3 linked regions of the Homo sapiens genome follow. The gene in region 3 interacts genetically with the main gene of each other region. Each region holds a gene or a part of one and is shown on either strand. Other genes may lie near its edges.

Evidence for each region.
Region 1: changes in MAN1A1 (region 3) and SEC23IP together harm fitness more than expected from each alone (negative genetic interaction), as found in Homo sapiens cells (one large-scale study listed by BioGRID).
Region 2: changes in MAN1A1 (region 3) and DAZAP1 together harm fitness less than expected from each alone (positive genetic interaction), as found in Homo sapiens cells (one large-scale study listed by BioGRID).

The regions. Positions count from the first base shown.
Region 1 is NC_000010.11:119,906,094-119,909,811, forward strand, and holds part of SEC23IP (SEC23-interacting protein), read left to right. Parts: intron 1-2,947; coding exon 2,948-3,037; intron 3,038-3,718. UniProt on the Homo sapiens protein: Plays a role in the organization of endoplasmic reticulum exit sites. Specifically binds to phosphatidylinositol 3-phosphate (PI(3)P), phosphatidylinositol 4-phosphate (PI(4)P) and phosphatidylinositol 5-phosphate (PI(5)P).
Region 2 is NC_000019.10:1,410,518-1,414,235, reverse strand, and holds part of DAZAP1 (DAZ-associated protein 1), read right to left. Parts: intron 1-3,718. UniProt on the Homo sapiens protein: RNA-binding protein, which may be required during spermatogenesis.
Region 3 is NC_000006.12:119,346,962-119,351,080, forward strand, and holds the start of MAN1A1 (mannosyl-oligosaccharide 1,2-alpha-mannosidase IA), read right to left. Parts: upstream 2,801-4,119; 5' UTR 2,581-2,800; intron 2,327-2,580; coding exon of another isoform or gene 2,105-2,326; coding exon 1,502-2,104; intron 1,496-1,501; exon of another isoform or gene 1,409-1,495; coding exon of another isoform or gene 1,373-1,408; intron 1-1,372. UniProt on the Homo sapiens protein: Involved in the maturation of Asn-linked oligosaccharides. Progressively trim alpha-1,2-linked mannose residues from Man(9)GlcNAc(2) to produce Man(5)GlcNAc(2).

The sequences.
Region 1 (3,718 bases), on a different chromosome or scaffold from region 3:
GGAAAAACCCCGTCTCTACAAAAAATACACACAAAAAAATTAGCTGGGCATGGTGGCCCATGCCTGTGGTCTTAGCTACTCAGGAGGCAGAGGCAGTAGGATTGCTTGAGCCTGGGATCTTGAGGCTGCAGTGAACTGTGATCGTGTCACAGCACTTTAGCCTGGGCAACAGAGCAAGACCTTGTCTCAGAAAAAAAAAAAAAAAAAAGAAACGGAGCTAAACATTATGTTCATGTAGGCACTATCATAAAAGATGTCAATTCTTCCCAAATTATCAGATAAATTTTAGGCAATCCCAATCAAAATTCACATCAGGGTTTTTTTTTTTTTTTGGTAAAATTTGCAAGCTGCTTCTAAATTTTTTGTGGAAGATCAAAATGTCAAGGATAACCAAGACCATTTCGACAATGAAATGTGAAATCTTTACCAGATAATACTTACTATAAAGCTGTGGATTGAAAGGGAATATGAAGAAGTGAAAATAATTTATTTATTTATTTTTTAAACAGGATCTCACTGTCCCCCAGGGTGGAGTGCAGTGGCGTGATTTCAGCTCACTGTAACCTCAGCCTCCTGGGTTCAAGCGATTCTCCTGCCTCAGCCTTCCGAGTTGCTGGGATTACAGGCGCCTGTCACCATGCCCAGCTAATTTTTGTATTTTTAGTAGAGACAGGGTTTCACCATGTTGGCCAGGATGGTCTCGAATTCCTGACCTCAGGTGGTCCACCCACCTCGGCCTCCCAGAGTGCTAGGATTACATGCGTGAGCCACCACACGTGGCCTGAAAATAATTTTTAAGGTGGTGAAAGTTTTCTTTCTTTAATCCTTGTTGTTTGTGGCCTTGCTTTTAGAAATTATGAATTATATTTGAAGTTTTTTTTTTTTTTAAATCGAAGAGGAGGGTCAGAAGTACAAAAGACTAGGCTGGGCATGGTGACTCACGCCTGTAATCCCAGCACTTTGGAGGCCGAGGCGGGCTGATTGCTTGAGATTAGGATTTCGAGACCAGTCTGGCCAACGTGGTAAAACCCTGTCTCTACTAAAAATACAAAATTAGCCAGGTATGGTTATGCACGCCTGTAATCCCAGCTACTCAGGAGGCTGAGGCAGGAGTATCTCTTGAACCTGGGAGGCGGAGGTTGCGGTGAGCTGAGATCACGCCATTGCACTCCAACCTGGGTGACAGAGTGAGACTCCATCTCAAAAAAAAAAAGTACGGAAGACTGATGAAGAGGAATTGTTACTGTTACTCAATGATTGTCCAAGAAACAGAAGGAAATACTTCTATTTTCACGTGATTGTCAAATACTCACTGTTACTAGTTTTAAAAAAAAGACTTTGTAACAATTTTTACTTGTCAATTAAAAAAATAAATGAACAAAAAAAAGGACTTGTGGATATGCCAGAGGCTCCCTCTTACTTTGTGTTGAATCTCTCCCCAAGAGGTCCTCACGCTTGTTCTTTATAGAAACTAGAATAGTACGATCGGCCCTCCGTATCCACAGGTTCCGTATCTGCAGATTCAACCAAATACTCTGAAAATATTTAGAAAACCACAACAATAAAAATAACACAGGCTGGGCACCGTAGCTCACGCCTGTAATCCCAGCACTTTGGGAGGCTGAGGTGGACGGATCATCTGAGGTCAGGAGTTCGAGACCAGCGTGGCCAATATGGTGATACCTTGTCTCTACTAAAAATAGAAAAATTAGCCAGATGTAGTGGCTCATTGCCTGTAGTGCCAGTTACTCGGGAGGCTGAGGCAGGAGAATCGCCTGAACCTGGGAGGCGGAGGTTGCGGTGAGCAGAGATTGCACCACTGTACTCCAGACTGGGCAACAGAGCAAGACTCTGTCTCAAGAAAATAAAAAATAAAAATTACAGTTTAACTATTGATATCACATCTACATTTCATGAGGTATTATAAGTAATCTAGAGAAGATTTAAAGTATAAGGGAGGATGTATGTAGGTTTTATGCAAAAATAATGCTATTTTATATAAAGGACTTGAACACCAGGGATTTTGGTATCTTTGAGGGGTCTTGGATCCAGTGCCCTGCAGAAACCAAAGAAAGACTATATCTGGAGGAAGAGTAAGAAGATGGTTGGACAGTGAAGATTTTGGAGTCAGAAAGTCCTGGGTGATATTACTCCAGCCCACATGAAAAAAAAGAAAAAGTCAGTCCTGGGTGGCAATGAACTACAGTTCTCCCATTGCTGCTTCCCAGTTGTGTCATCTTGTGCAACTGTATACAGTACTTAAAATGTCTATTATGGGTTGAATTGTGTCTCCCCATCCCCCAAATATGTTGAATTACTAATCCCCAGTGTCTCAGAATGTGACCTTATTTGGAAATAGGGTCATTGCAGATGTAATTAGTTAAGGTGAGGTTTTACTGGAATAGGATGGGCCCCAAAGCCAATATAACTTGTGATGTGAAGACAGACACACAGAAAGAATCCCATATGATGATGGAGGCAAAGGCTGGAGTTACACTGCAAGCCAAGGAAAGCCAGAGATTGCCAGCCACCACCAGAAGCTAGGAAGAGGGAAGGAGGATTTCTTTATAGCTTTCAGAGGAACGGTGGCCTGCCTTCCTGGCACCTAATTTTCTACTTGGAGCCTCCAGAACTATGGGATGATACATTTTTTTTCTAAGTCACTCTGTTTGTGATACTTTGTTAATGCAGCCCTAGGAAATGAACAGACCATCTAAAACTTGGTTTTCTTCATTATATAATGGGGATCCTGTTACTTAGGCGTGATTGAGAGTAATTACTTCAATGGTATGTGTAAGGTGATAAAAAATATGTTAACCAGTCAGGAAATGAGAACTGCTATTACTGTTATTTTTATCACCATTATAGTGACCGTTTTCCTCCATACTTTCTCTCCATGTGGTATAAATTTGTCATGTTGGAATATATGTTGTTTCCCCCATTATAGGCTGAATATAAAAAAGCTGTAACCACTAATCAGTGGCACCGAAGATTAGAGTTTCCAAGTGGAGAGACAATTGTTATGCACAATCCAAAGGTAATGATGGTGTTCAAAATTTTAAGGTATTAAGTTCATTTTAATATTTTTCTGTGTATGTTTGATAAATTGTTCATTTTTAGTAACTTCTACAGTGGGAATGTTTTTGTAACAAGTGCATTGCTTTTAAAATACTTTATTATTATAGTGGATAATACAGATATTATTTCTATGATTCACACTGATCATAGAAACAAAAACACAAATTTTTCGTAGGGCGAGGTGCACACCTGTGAGAGGCTGAGACAGGTGGAATGCTTGAGCCAGGGGGACAGCAGAACCCTGTCTCTATAAAAAATAGAAAAATTAGCTGGGTGTAGTGGCACATGCCTGTAGTCCCAGCTACTCAAGAGGCTGAGGTGGGAGGATTACTTGAGCCCGAGAGGTTGAGGCTGCAGTGAGTCAGGATTGCTCCCCGCTGCACTCTAGTAGCCTGGGTGACAGAGCAAGACCTCGTCTCAAAATAAAAAGTAAATTTTTCTCAGGCTGGGTGTGGTGGCTCACACCTGTAATCCCAGCGCTTTGGGAAGCCAAAGTGGGAAGATTGCTTTAGGCTAGGAGTTTGAGACCAGCCTGGGAAACAAAGAGACTCTGTCTCTACAAAAATTAAAAAAATTAGCTGAGCATAGTGGTGTGCACCTGTCTAGCTACTCGGGAGGCTGAGATAGAGGATCACTTGAG
Region 2 (3,718 bases), on a different chromosome or scaffold from region 3:
GACCAGCCTGGCCAACATGGCAAAACCCCATCTCTACTAAAAATACAAAAATTAGCTGGGCTCGGTGGTGCGCACCTGTAATCCTAGCCACTCGGGAGGCTGAGCTCGAGGTGTACTGCTTGAACCCGGGAGGCGGAGGTTGCACTGAGCCAAGATCAAGCCACTGCACTCCAGCCTGGGCGACAGAGTGAGGGTCCATCTAAACACACACACACACACACACACACACACACACACACACACACAGTTCACTGGGGGTGGGGCAAGAGGCACCACGTGCCAAAGGGTAAAATGTCAGCCAATGGTGAGTCTGGCAGGGCCAAGAGGATATGGGAATTTTTGTAATTTTCCTGTAAGTCAGAAGTTATATATACAATTATGGTATAAAAGACTTTCATTACTGAGAACAAGACAGAATTTCAGTTTCTTTTGAAACAAGTCTCAGTCCTTATGGAATCTGAGACAGCAACAGATAGCTTTCGTTTCACATAGCTGTGTCTGGAGCTCCCCACCGCAGGTGACCCGCCCGCCTCGGCCTCCCAAAGTGCTAGGATGACAGGCGTGAGGCACCGCGCGCGGCCACACTGTGTGTTTCTGTTGAGATATTTGAGAGCAGCTTCTAACGCTAAAGCTTCCTGTGTCCATGTGTCTTTTACTACCACTCAGGAGCCACCGGCGAACACCTTCTCCCTGGTCTACAGACAGAAGCCTCCGGGAAGTCCCGGAAAGCAGGGTCATCTCTTCAGTGGCAGGGACTGCCTCCAGGGCCCTGGCACAAAGTCCCTACTTCTGAATCTCAGGATGTTTTAATCAATAAAATAAGAAAGCTCCTGGCTGCCAACCTCACCAGGTCGTGAGTGAGAAGCCGGCACATCAGAAACATGCGGAGCCCTGGGCAGGCACCTCCCAGACACTGTCCATCAACTGCCCAGGCAGCAGAACCAACTCTCACACAAGTAAACGTCGGAGTCCAGGAAGCCGGGCGCGGGCAGAGGCCAAAAGGAGGAGCTGCTGGCTCTCGTGGGCTTGCTACGGGGCTGGCGGTCCGCTTGTCCTCAGCTCCAGGCTTGCTCAGCCTGCACCTTGGCTGGCGGCGTGTGGACTGAGGACGTTAACGGGGCAAGGCAACACTGGCCTACGCAGATGAAGGGGTCGGTGAGCAATGTGGCTCCTGCACCCTGCCTCTGAGGGGCCCGCTGGGTGGGAGAGTCATCACCCAGCTGACGGCATCTCCGACACTGGAAGTCGTGGCTCCTACAGACCTCACACCCCACAAACCCAAAAGGGGTGTTCTCATTAGTGGGGGAGGCGTGGGACGAGCTCCACTTCTTCCCTTGCAACCTGGAGTCCAGCGTGCAGTCTGCCCATCAAAGGTCATGATGAACATCTCCCAGGATCTGCAAGCCTGGCACCCAGGGCCTGCAGCTCGACACCTGGCAGGTGCTCAATCCACGGTGGCCGGCGCAGCCACCCTCTTCTGCCTGTTAAAGCAAAAGCCGTTTTGGATGGCAACCTCGCTTGCTGCGTGCCATTCGGGTGCCTGTGCGGTATTTATGCGTAAAGTCCATCTGCAGAGGCTTCCTCTGGCCTAGGCTGACCACAAAGAGCCCTGACCTCCTGGCAGCACCAGAGTGGGCTTCAAAAACCGGCGGCCAGCCCGGCCATTCGGGGCCAGCAGCCTCAATGGGGGCAGTTGGCAGGCGACCTTTCCCTTCCTGCTGGGCCGGGGGACCAAGCCAGGAGGAGCCTGCCTCCCCACAGACCCCACCTGGCTCTGGGCTCCGCCAGTCACACTCAGCTCCGTGCACAATCTCAAGAGGCAGAAGTCCAGGCCCAGTGGCGGCTGATGTGTGGGGAACCCTTCTCTTCTTCCAGAGCATCAGGAAGAGCCTCTAGGGACTTTCCTGCCCCTAAGACCAGGTGGGAAACCAGGACCACTTCACCCACTGCCTCAGGCCAGTGAGCCCAGCCCGCCCCTCCATAGCCTGGACTCCCTCTCCCCAGCAGGGTCAGATGCCCCCCCTCCAGCCCACGCCTGCAGGGTGTGGGGTCCACAGAACACAGGAGCGGTCCGTGAACTGGAACGCGCTGCTGTGTGCTGAAGGAGCCCCTGAATGCCCACATCCTGGGTGCTAACTGTGGTCACCCTCATCCTCTCCCTGCCAGCCCCGCCCTCCCAGGCGGACCAGTGTTCTCCTTGGCAACGCCTGGAGCCAAGCTGGAAGCTCAGCCTATAAGCATCTGTCGAATGACTGGCCTCTGCCAAAAGCCCTGTCACAGCTCTCAGGGATTCTGACATCATGACATGGTGTCACGGGGACCAGGCCTGGATGGGAAAAGGCCTCAGTTCACAGAAGACAGCACAACCTCAGATTGACGGGTCGCACCATGAACATAGCCGCCTGACCAGGAGCGCCCTCTGTGCGGGGCGGGCAGTGGAGGAGTGTGGACTCCCAGCTCCGGATCTTCCACCCCCTGGGGTGACCCCGGGCCCATCCCTCAACTCCTCTGTGCCTCAGTCTCTCTGGCAAAGCCAAGGGTTAGAGCCAAGGCTACAAGCACAGCTGGGCACGCTGCGCGCTGCTGCTAGCTCTGGGCCACTGGGGAGCTGCTGTGTGAAGGGCAAGCGCCAGGGTCCATGCTGCTGCCTTTCTAGACACCGGCCTGCTCCAGACCATTGGAGCCAAGGCGAGCCAGTCAGGAGCACATCCACCCTCAAGGCCCATTCACAGGAATCAAAGGAGCCGACACAGGACAAGCCATAAACCACAAGGAGCAGCGGCCCCCAGCGCAGGGGCAACCAGGCCAAAAGCACAGATGCTCCCAGACAGTGGCTCTCCCCCCAGCAGGACACTGGGTGATGTCTGGGAACATTTGTGGTTGTCACGACTGGGGGTACTCCTGACCCGGAGTGAATGGAGGCCAAAGGTGCTGCCCAGCACCCTGCAGTGCCCACGGTGCCCCAGAGTGATCCAGGCCAGAGTGCTGACAGAGCCCAGGAGACCTGCCTCGGAATAACTCCAAATGCACCAAGAGAGCCCCAGAAAGGCCGGCACGGCCCCATGAGGTTCCCTATCACTCCCCGCACTGCAACAGCCTCCCCCAGATCACGGCCCTCTCTGGCCTGACCAACAATCTTGCCAGGTGCCTTGTGCTCACTCTGCACAGGTACAAGTAGTCACGGCCTCTAGGGGCCCAGCCAGGAGCCCCACTCAGGATGTCTCCTTCCACAGCCACCCAATAAACCCAGAGACCTGCCATGGGCCTGGCTCTGAGCTGCATGGCCCCCGGCCACAGTCCTGGGTATCCTCGAAGCTGCCCAGAGGCGGCTTTCTCCTCTCTCCGCTGAGTCCTTCCTCCCTCTGTGACTTTCCTACAATATTTCCAGGTGTCCCTGTCTTACCATTCCCCAGTGTACCAGATAAAATCTTCCATAAACCTCTCTCTCCAGTTCCATGACCGTGTGCTGCCTTGGAAGCCAGCAGAACACAATGGCCTGGGCGCTCGAGGTGACCCCTCTGAGCCTCTGTCCTCTCCCCAGTAGGCCAGGCATGGGCCCTATCCCTGACACCTGGTCTACCACCCAGGCGCCTAGCACCCAGCGGCTACTCAACAGGATGTGGCGACCCCGGCCGCGCTGTGTCAGCTTCCCAGAATCCAAGTCAGAGGCGCTCAAGCCAGACTTTAAGATGACTTCACAAGGCCAGGGAGGGCACAC
Region 3 (4,119 bases):
TTTGGTAGCACAGGCAGGATTTCATGGAGAAAGGAAACTGCTAGACAGTTGTTCTGGAAAGTAGAATCCATTCCCCCAAGTATGGGAGGGTTCTGTCCCTGAGGAGGGGTCTCAGAAAAGCAGATATGCTGATGGACTGTGGAAGGAAGCTATCTGCATAGGAAGGATGAAGACATTCTTCCTAAACCGAAAGGGATCCAAGTCCACTTTAACTTGCTCAATTACAGCTTAACCAAATTCAGCTGATCTTATAATACAAAGTCACAAATCCCATGACAATCCTGCTGCCTTCATTCTGCAGCCACTTAAGCTAAACACCTCTCAACCACCTCAAAAATCTGTTTACTCTCTGAAAATGGGATCAGGGACTTCCTCTCCTGATTACCTACCCAATATGAAAATACAATATTTATTTTCACAGATCGTATTATTTTTTAAATGGCAAAAATATTACTTCCATTCATATTTTAGAAAATTGAACCAAGATTTGGAATGACATGCTTTTAATGTGGTTCCTACAGCTTTTCTATGTAAAACGCAGGCTGGCACCGTTTCACACAGGGAAGTAGCTCAGAGAGGAGGCATGTCCACAGACCGCGTGGTGACAGGTGACTGGGGGAAGTTCGGACCTCGGGCTTCAAGTCCTGACTCATCACTAACGGGTTCTAGAGCTCTGGGCCCTTCGATCTTCATCTTGAAAATGACAGCCTGAAAGGACTTTTTACGGCCCCCTTCAGCTTTAAGCTGGTCCTGACCTAATCACATGTTTCAAGTTCTAACTGAAAATTACGAGAAGGAAATTAGGAAAGATGTATCAAAGTCCATGTTTATCCTGGATTAACTTTGTCACCATTGTGCTGCTGTGGAGGCAAACCTGTTGCATCACATGGAATACCCTATTTCTGGCTGTGCATTAGAAATACAAGAGGCAGCCGACTGGCTTTTTATATTTTCATTTTTTAAAAAAGTAAACAATAGTATCCCTCGATGATGGGAAGTTCTCAGGTTTCACCTTTATAGTCTGAAAGTACACACAGAATGCCACCTGGCAGACAAGGGCCACACAGCTGAACCCGGGGTATGCTGGCTAGCTTTACCACGCGTGAAGACTCACTTTAAAGCCACGTCCCCAATCCTTACCAGGGGGCTGATCAGTGCCGTCGCTGTTACTGGTGGGGCGATTAACCGTGTAGCGGCCAGAGAATGAGGTTTGCGTATTACCTGCCCATGTATTTATACCCACCTCGTGTGGCTTGTGGTCACCAGAGCAAGAGCATGCAAATTAAAAGCAACGAGATTTGACCTTAGATCTTACTGGACACATCTACTACTATATTGGAAACAGGAAAAGAAAGAGCTTTTGACACAGCACCTGGTGGAAGGGGCAAACCTCCATCTCCCCATACATTGCATTGTTGCAGTCTTCAGAGTTTCAAAGGCTTGCCGTTTCTCCCTGAAAAACACGGCCGGTCGGGAGGGATTTCTGGCGCGGCCCACTCACCTCTTTGATCTTTGCCCTTTTCTCGCGGATGGCGGCGTCGGCGGGCTCCCGGCTCTCCACCCCGATTGGGGGCACGAAGTCCACCGGGGGCAGGCCTCTGAACGGCGCCTTGTCACGCAGCTGGTCCTGGGCCACCTTCTTCTTCTCCAGTAGGATGTCTCTTTGGATCTCCTCGGGCAGCTTCTGCAGGGTCTCCTTGGCTTCCCTGAGAGCCCGCTCGTGGTTTTCGCGGATCCTGGCCAAGTTGTCCTCCAGGGCGGCCTCCGGGTCCCCGGGTGCCCCCTCCTCGCGGCGCCGGGCTCGCCCCTCGGCCGCGTCCTCGGCGCGCGCCCCGGGCCCGGGCTTGTGGTCGGCGGCCGGCTGCAAGGCGGGGCTGGAGTGGAACAGGACCCCGCTGAGCAGCTTGGAGGAGTCTGGCAGGAAGAAGATCGCCCCGAAGCAGAGCGTGATGAAGGCGCTGAATACCAGCAGCAGCACGAACTTCTCCGTCAGGCGGAGGGCGGCGGGGCCCGACCCCTTCCTGCCACCGCCGCCGCCGAGCCCCCCGCCCAGGACGCCGCCCGCGGGGCTGCTGAAGAGCGGCAACAGGCCCCCCACGGGCATCGCTCCCGCTGTCCAGTGGTCCGGCGCCGCGCCGCTCAGCAGCCAAACTTCGCCGCCGCTGGGAGTCCGCGGCTGCGGGGCTGGGTCCTGCGTAGCCAGGCCGCCCGACCCCCTCGGCTGGGCTGCGGATCCTCCCTGGGGGAACAACTCCGCGCCGGGTCTTCTCCCCGGGGCGGCTCCTCGGGCACACAGGCACGCGCGACAGACCGCTGGCTGCAGCCCCTGCGGGGAGAGAAACAGTAAAACGTAGTAATTACGGCGATGATAAAGTTTCCAGCGGGTCTCCGCCCTCCGACTCCTGGCGAGCCTCCAGGACCGCTCCCCTTAAGCAGAGTCCTGTCCAGTCCGGGCACCGCCCTCGCAGCCCACTCTCTGGACTTGGGGTGAAGTTATCAGGTCCCGTGGGTAGGGGAGGGGTGTCCCGCGCAGGAAGGGGTCAGGGCAGCGCGCGAGCACCTCGGGGAGGGGCAGCGCACCTCTGGGCAGGAGGGGCGCAGCGTGGGCGGGAGACTCGTCAACTTCGCCCGCTCCCCATCTCCGCGCTGAGACTGCTGCCTCTTTCCTAGGCTGGGCTGAGCGCGCTGTCCCACGGTCCCGCAGCCCCGGCGCGGCTCAGGTGGGCGAGCGCGCCGACCTGCGGGCGAATGGCAGCGAGTAGAGCAGCACGGTACACTCCGCCGCGGCCCCGCGAGCACTAATCTCACTGCCGGTCTTGGGGCGGTGGAAAGCGAGGGAGGCGACGCGGCCGGAGAGTGACGGCGCGGCCGGGCCAATCACGCGCCGCCCAGGGTCCCGCGGGGGCGGGGCCGAGGCGAGGAGGGGGATGCGCGGGGCGGGGAGTTTACGGGAAGCGCAGCCTCGGCGGGGCCCGGCCGGCGGCGGGGAGGTCGCGGGGCCGGGAGGCGCGAGGTAGGCGGGAGCCGCGGTGAGGAGGACGGTCGAACCCGTGGCTGAGGCCCAGCGCCGAGAAGCGGCAGGCAGAGTTCGGGGTCGGGGAGTTTATCCTGCGCTGGCCTCGGCAGGGGTCCCCGGGGTGGTTGATCCTCGACTGGCCCGGGAGGCGCCTGGGTCCGCGCGGGACCTCTCTGCCTCCTCCTCCGACCCGTGCGGGGCGGTCGGGGGCGCTCCCGAGGGGGTCCCGGGAAAGGCGGGGTCTGGCAGGGGGTCCTGGGCGCTGGGTCGTTCAGAAGCACGGCTTTACTCCAGTTACCCTCTTTTTATCCAAGGCCGGGGTTCCCCGGGTGCCTGGTAGCAGTGAAACCCCAAGTCCCTCGGTTAGGGGAGCCGTGACCCTGGGAGCTTTTGAGCTCTCTGGTATAACATCCTTTTACATCCTAAGAGACACAGTTCTGTGCTTGCTTAGGACTTTTTTCGTATGCGCCCTTTCTTCCCCCAAAAAACAAAAAACCGAAAAAACTTGTATGTCTCTCCCGCCCACCCGTACTTTCACTATTCATTTACCTCATAGAAGTTGGTCAAATTTTCCATTCGAAGACGAGTTTTATGCTGCGGTAGCTTCAAGCAATAAGTCGAACACTGTGTTGAAATTAAGTCTTGGATCCGACTACTTCCAGCGAAGTGAGGAGTTGGTCCAATAGAAATTATTTTCCAAAATGTGTTGTAATTCTCCTGTTGCTCCACAAATAAGGGGTTATCAGAGAGGAAAACGTTGACTGACTTCGCATTTCTGAAAGCTGGTTTGTAGTCGCCTTATTTCATCCTTACCCTTCTCTGGAAATGTGACATTAGTTCTGTTTGTGCTTAAGACAAAGGAAACAGCTGGCACCTTTCGGGAAGGTGGCTCCAGTACAGTTGTTTCCAGGTGTTAAGCTGTATGAGAAAGTAGAAAAGTAATCAGAAATCCTTACTAGTTTTCATTTAATCATTTAATTATTAATTTTAACCATCATTATTTGTCGTCTACTTGTTTTGTGTAAAATGAGTAATACACTCAAAGTTCTTGTTAATAGGAAATTATTGTTTGATAAAGCTGGCTTTATGGCTTGGTTATTTTG